Regions from separate parts of the Homo sapiens genome. Here region 2 is linked to region 1. Evidence: fine-mapped expression QTL. A gene starts in region 1. The other region holds a variant in brackets. All regions are shown on one strand. Distances are between the middles of the regions.

The links. PIP is the estimated chance that this variant, and not a neighbour inherited with it, causes the effect.
Region 2: its variant is fine-mapped to the expression of ADAT2 in cerebellum (GTEx, PIP 0.97).

What each region holds. Positions count from the first base shown.
Region 1 is chr6:143,449,361-143,452,279 of GRCh38, reverse strand. ADAT2 (adenosine deaminase tRNA specific 2) reads left to right here and starts at 1,585. Exons shown (of 6, transcript NM_182503.3): 1 at 1,585-1,717. The coding sequence starts at 1,622. PEX3 (peroxisomal biogenesis factor 3) reads right to left here and starts at 1,475. Exons shown (of 12, transcript NM_003630.3): 1 at 1,165-1,475. The coding sequence starts at 1,237. It also overlaps the pseudogene RNA5SP221. RefSeq lists enhancers at 1,635-1,794, 1,597-2,579 and silencers at 2,335-2,414, 2,475-2,554.
Region 2 is chr6:143,867,681-143,870,599 of GRCh38, reverse strand. The region is part of intron 1 of ZC2HC1B (zinc finger C2HC-type containing 1B); the gene reads right to left. Among named protein-coding and RNA genes, the nearest start is that of ZC2HC1B, 4.7 kb to the right of the region's middle. The variant A/G (reference allele first, on the strand shown) is at 1,245.

The DNA of each region.
Region 1 (2,919 bases):
AAATTTACATATGCTTATTATTGATGTGTGATAGACCTCAGAGACATGCAAAACACCATCCTTGGCTCAGCAACAAGAACTCTGTTTCAAACTTTCAAGCATCACCAAAATCTGAACTATTGATGCTAAAGGTATTAATTGCAAATTGTTTGGGGAGAACAGAATACAATCTAATACGTACTGTTAATTTCAAATTGTTTGGGGAGAACAGAATACAATCTAATACTAAGAGAAAAGCCAACCAAATTCTTTGGGAAACTCTGTTCTTGATTTTAAGTACTTTTGTAAACATAGCATGTAATAAGTGATGAGACTATTTCTCAAAAACTCAAGTTCTAACAAATTTCCTCTTTTATAGTTCCTAGATGTCCTTTTCATATAATTCACAAAACTTTTATTCCCTCCTTCAAATCCCTGAATATTATCACATGAGCATTGTATGAGGGAAAAGCGTCTCAAGATTTTTATCTTATCTGTTTCTAAATCTCCTCTGGGCCTGTGCAACTCAGTTATGTCAGCTAGATTACAATGATCCCAACCTTGAAGATCCTGAGGAAGATTGCACAACATCCCTCAAGCATTTTTCTTACTGCCATAGTTTGTATTCTAAAATGGCAGAAACAGAGCTAAAATATTGATTTGTTTTTCTTTATCTAATCCATATCTTTCAGTCCTTTAGGACAACTGCGCTGTTTTCAAAAATTCAAATCGACTTTAACCACCACCCGAAGTGCAGCCTATAGGTAACTTCCCTAGATTATTATTAAACTCCTGAGAAGGGTGAGAGCCAAAGTATCAAGAGTGCCAAGGAGAAATGCAGAATCTCACAGGAAAGCAGAATTTTTTTTAAAAAGTTCCTGTAAGAGAATGGTGCCTTGAAACAGAAACTTAAACTGTGATGAGTTCTCCAAAGGTCCGTGAGAAAAAAGGATAGGTGAGAAACAGAGTTAAGAGTCGGTGACAGGGCAAAGGGCACAGAGGCATTTCTCAACTGCAGAGATGGGAGAACCCTGGAGGTTGGCCACCTCCCTTTTCATCCCATGGTTGATCGAACTCCCTCTACATATCCCAGACTAGGATCGCCCGGCCTGTCCTTATTTTAGAAGAAGTCACCTCTCCCACCCCCTTCTCCCAATGCCCCCTTTCAAGCACGTTGTCACCCACCTCCAAGGACCGTGCCCAGGAAGATGCATTTCTTTTTGTGGCGTTTCAGAAAATTCCATACAGACCTCAGCATCTTTAGGCCCTAGGGGTGTGGGCTGACTAGGGGTGAGGGACTGCTTCACCAGGAAACTGTTTCTTCGTCACCTGGCCCAGATGACCCAGCAAGAGCGCCGTCGTCCCGTTCTGTGCTCTCCCGAAATCACAAACGTGACTTTCCGCAGAGACTGTCACCGGAGCGGCAAGGGGGCGTGGACTACAGCAAAGCAGCTACGCTTTCTGCCGCTGCCGCCGCGCAGCCGCCGCCGCTCACTGGTCCGACAAGCCCAGGTCCGTTCAGAAATAGCTCCCGAGTGCCTTTTCATTAGACTACCCCCGGAAACGGGGTCCCGGGCCCGCCGCGTTCCGCTGCCCGCGCTCCTCCTCTGCCGCGGGCTCTGTAGCTGAGTGGTGGCTGGGTATGGAGGCGAAGGCGGCACCCAAGCCAGCTGCAAGCGGCGCGTGCTCGGTGTCGGCAGAGGAGACCGAAAAGTGGATGGAGGAGGCGATGCACATGGTGAGGAGCCCGGGAGGTAGATGCTGCGGGGTGGGACCTTTCTCCAGCCCTCAACCCGACCCCGGCATTTGAGCAAACGTTCTTTCTCGTCACCATAATTTTTATGGCAGTCAGATGTTCTGGGTGAACAACTGGCTTTACTGCCTCGAAACTTTCTGTAGCCCATTCTCACAGTGGCTCTGGGCGAAGGAAGGGGAGGAAATACACAAATTATTTGTTTCATTGCGGTGGAGTATGCTGCAGACTTAACATTCTGTCGCCGGCTGGCACGTGCTGCCTCCCTTTCCTTTCTGTGGTCACACACTCTCCAATCTACAAAGTCACATTATTTGAGGTTTTGGCCCTTGGAACATGTCCAGCAGAAGGAAGGAAACTGAGAACGTTTCTGGTAGAGAGCAGTATGGAAACAAGTCCCTGTACAATCGGCGTCTCGCATTCATTCATTATTTCCTCTGCCCTTTTACTTCCTTCCCTCACTCCCTTCAGGACTGCGAAATAAAGGGGGCTTTCAACAGAATGCTGTGTGCTAGCGAGCTTCTTAACTGGGAAAAAAAGTTTGTTTGTAAATATATGTATTTACATTTTAATAACTACATACAGCCACGTGCCACACAATGACCTGTCGGTAAAGGTCGTTATCCTGGAGCATTAAATCTACTCACCTTAGCCCTATTGTCCCATCCAAGTACTAACCAGGCCTGACCCTGCTTAGCTTCCGAGATCGGGGGACATTCAGGGTGGTATGGAGGTAGACAACCCTAGTTTCTATGTAGACTTCTGGGCTAAACACTTTCGCTACCTTTTAGGTTGACCCTGGGCTAGCACATGTAAATACATTTACATACGTTTACAAACAAACTTTTATCCCAGTTAAGAAGCTCGCTAGCACTTTTCAGCTCCATTATAATCTTATAGGACCACATATACAGCGGTGGTGCTATAGGATTATAATGAAGCTGAAAAGTTCCTGTTGCCCAGTGACATGTAGCCCTCCTAACAAGTACTTTTTTTCCTTTAAGACCTTGAAGAAACTTGTATATGCTAAAACCCAAGAAGCAGCTGCCTCCTTAATCCTGTGTAGGAGGACGTAAACTATGGAATCACATCCCTAGGTGTTTATAATACAATTAAGAGACAAAAAATGTCAAAGCCAGAGAGGTCTAGAAATTCTTTGAAAACATCTACATGTTTAAAAAGATACA
Region 2 (2,919 bases), 420 kb before region 1:
TGAGTGCTTTCTGACCCATCTAGCCATAAAGTGGGTCATGCACAGCAGCATCCATCATCAAATGGAAGTGTATATACATGATTGGACTCAAGCAGGTCCTAAAGGCACAAGTAAGTTACATGAGGAAGTGGCTCAAATGCCCAAGGTGGAGACTCCTGCCACCTTGCCTTCTCTCCCCTAGCCTGCACCAATGGCCTCATGAGGAGTTCTCTATGATCAGTTGACAGAAAAAGAGAAGACTAGAGCCCGGTTCACAGATGGTTCTGCACAATATGGAGGCACCACCCAAAAGTGGACAGCTGCCTTTCTAGGACATCCCTGAAGGACAGCCCCTTCCTAGGACATCCCTGAAAGTGGTGAGGGAAAATTTTCCCAGTGGGCAGAACTTTGAACAGTGCACTTGCTTGTGCACTTTGCATGAAAGGAGAAATGGTCAGATGTGCAATTATATACTGATTCATGGGCTGTTGCCAGTAGTTTGGCTGGATAGTCAGGGACTTGGAAGAAGCATGATTGGAAAATTGGTGACAAAGAAATTTGGGGAAGAGGTATGTGGATGGACCTCTCTGAGTGGTCAAAAACTGGAAAGATATTTGTATCCCATGTGAATGCTCACCAACTGGTGACCTCAGCAGAGGAGGATTTTAATAATCAAGTGGATAGGATGACCCGTTCTGTGGACACCACTCAGCCTCTTTCCCCAGCCACCCCTGTTGTCGCCCAATGGGCCCATGAACAAAGTGGCCATGGTGGCAGGAATGAAGGTTATGCATGGACTCAGCAACATGGACTTCCACTCACCAAAGCTGACCTGACTACAGCCACTGCTGAGTGCCCAATTTGCCAGCAGCAGAGACCAACACTGAGACCTCGATATGGCACCACTTCTCAGGGTGATCAGCCAGCTACCTGCTGGCAGGTTGATTACATTGAACCTCTTCCATCATGGAAAAGGCAGAGGTTTCTCCTCACTGGAATAAACACTCACTCTGGATATGGGTTTGCCTATCCTCCATGCAATGCTTCTGCCAAGACTACCATCCATGGACTCATAGCATGCCTTATCCACTGTCATGGTATTCCACACAGCATTGCCTCTCTTTACAGAGAGAGAGGCACTCACTTTACAGATAAAGAAGTGCAGCAGTGGGCGCATGCTCATGGAATTCACTGGTCTCACCATGTTCTTCATCATCCTGAAGCAGTTGGATTGATATAACGGTGGGATGGCCTTTTGAAGTCAC[A/G]ATTACAACAACTAGGTGACAATACGTTGAAGGGCTGGGGTAAAGTTCTCCAGAAGATCGTGTATGCTCTACTACTCCACAACAGAGGTAAGGAAGAGTAGGCATGGAATACAGGAGATCTATTAGGGTGTCTCTTAGTATTACCATGTCCTGTGATTCAGGTCAATGGGAAACTACAACAGCCTAATCCAGGCAGGACTACAAATGGCCCAGACCCTTCAGGAATGAAGGTTTGGGTCACTCCACCAGGAAAAAACCATGACCTGCTGAGGTGCTTGCTGAAGAAAAAGGGAATACAGAATGGGTAGTAGAAGAATGTAGTCATCAATACCAGCTATGACCACGTGACCAGCTGCAGAAATGAGGACTGTAATTGTCATTAGTATTTCCTCCTTCTTTTGTTAAAAACATGTTTGTGCATGTACACACGTGTACTAAGAAGATATCTTCATTTTATTTACTTTTTCCTTCATCATGTGACATAAGATTTATTGACTTCGCATCAGCATTTAAGAATTGTTAACTTTATGTAATAGTATTTGGGTTGGGGATTGGTGCATTTCTGGTTGTATTAAGGATAGTTGTATTACGTTAGGCATAATTATGACCTTATTATTGTCTTTATTTGAAGATTATGTATGATCTCAGGAGATGGGTATGGGTTGAAGTTGACAAGAGGTAGACTTGTGATGGTTAATACTGAGTGTCAACCTGATTGGAAAGAAGGATGCAAAGTTATTGATCCTGGGTGTGTCTGAGAGGGTGTTACCAGAGGAGATTAACATTTGAGTTAGTGGGCTGGGGAAGGCAGACTCATCCTTAATCTGGGTGGGCACCACCTAGTCACCTGCCAGCGCAGATCGAATCTAAAGCAGGCAGAAAAAAAAAATGTGAAAAGACTAGACTGGCCTAGCCTCCCAGCCTACATCTTTCTCCTGTGCTGGATGCTTCCTGCCCTCAAACATTGAACTCCAAGTTCTTCAGTTTTGGCACTGTACTGGTTGTCCTTGCTCCTCAGCTTGCAGACGGCCTATTGTGGGACCTTGTGATTGTGAGTTAATACTTAATAAATTCCCCTTTATATACAGATCTAGCCTATTAGTTCCATCCCTCTAGAGAACCCTAATACACCTTCTGATTTAAAAGACTCAGTAAAATGGAAGTTTCAGAACAGTGAAGACAGATTCTACAGACTTCCAAAGAAAAATCAGATACAAATGATCAGCAATCAGGATGGCTTCAGATTCCCAAAAAGCAAAATTGGAAATGGAAACAAATGGAAGAAACCCTTTAAACTTCTGAGGTAAAATAATCTACAACCAAGAATTCTATATTCAGTCAAGCTGTCAATCCAACATAAGAGTAGAATATATTTCCAGACATCCAAGTTCCCAAAAAGTCTACATCCCCTGTACCCCATTTCATGAATTACTGGAGGACGTGATCCACAAGCATGTGAATGAGATATAGGAAAAGGCAATTATAGACTGGATAGAGAAAAGGGAATTCCCAGTATGATAGCTGGGCACAACAACCAAAGAGCAACCAGTCGAGGTTTGAGGTGTGTGATTAGAGACAGACGTGTTGACGGCTATCACGACTAAGATATTCACTGCCTTCATAATCTCAAGATAGTATATTCAAGGAAGTCTGGCTCCCATTTTGTTCTACACTT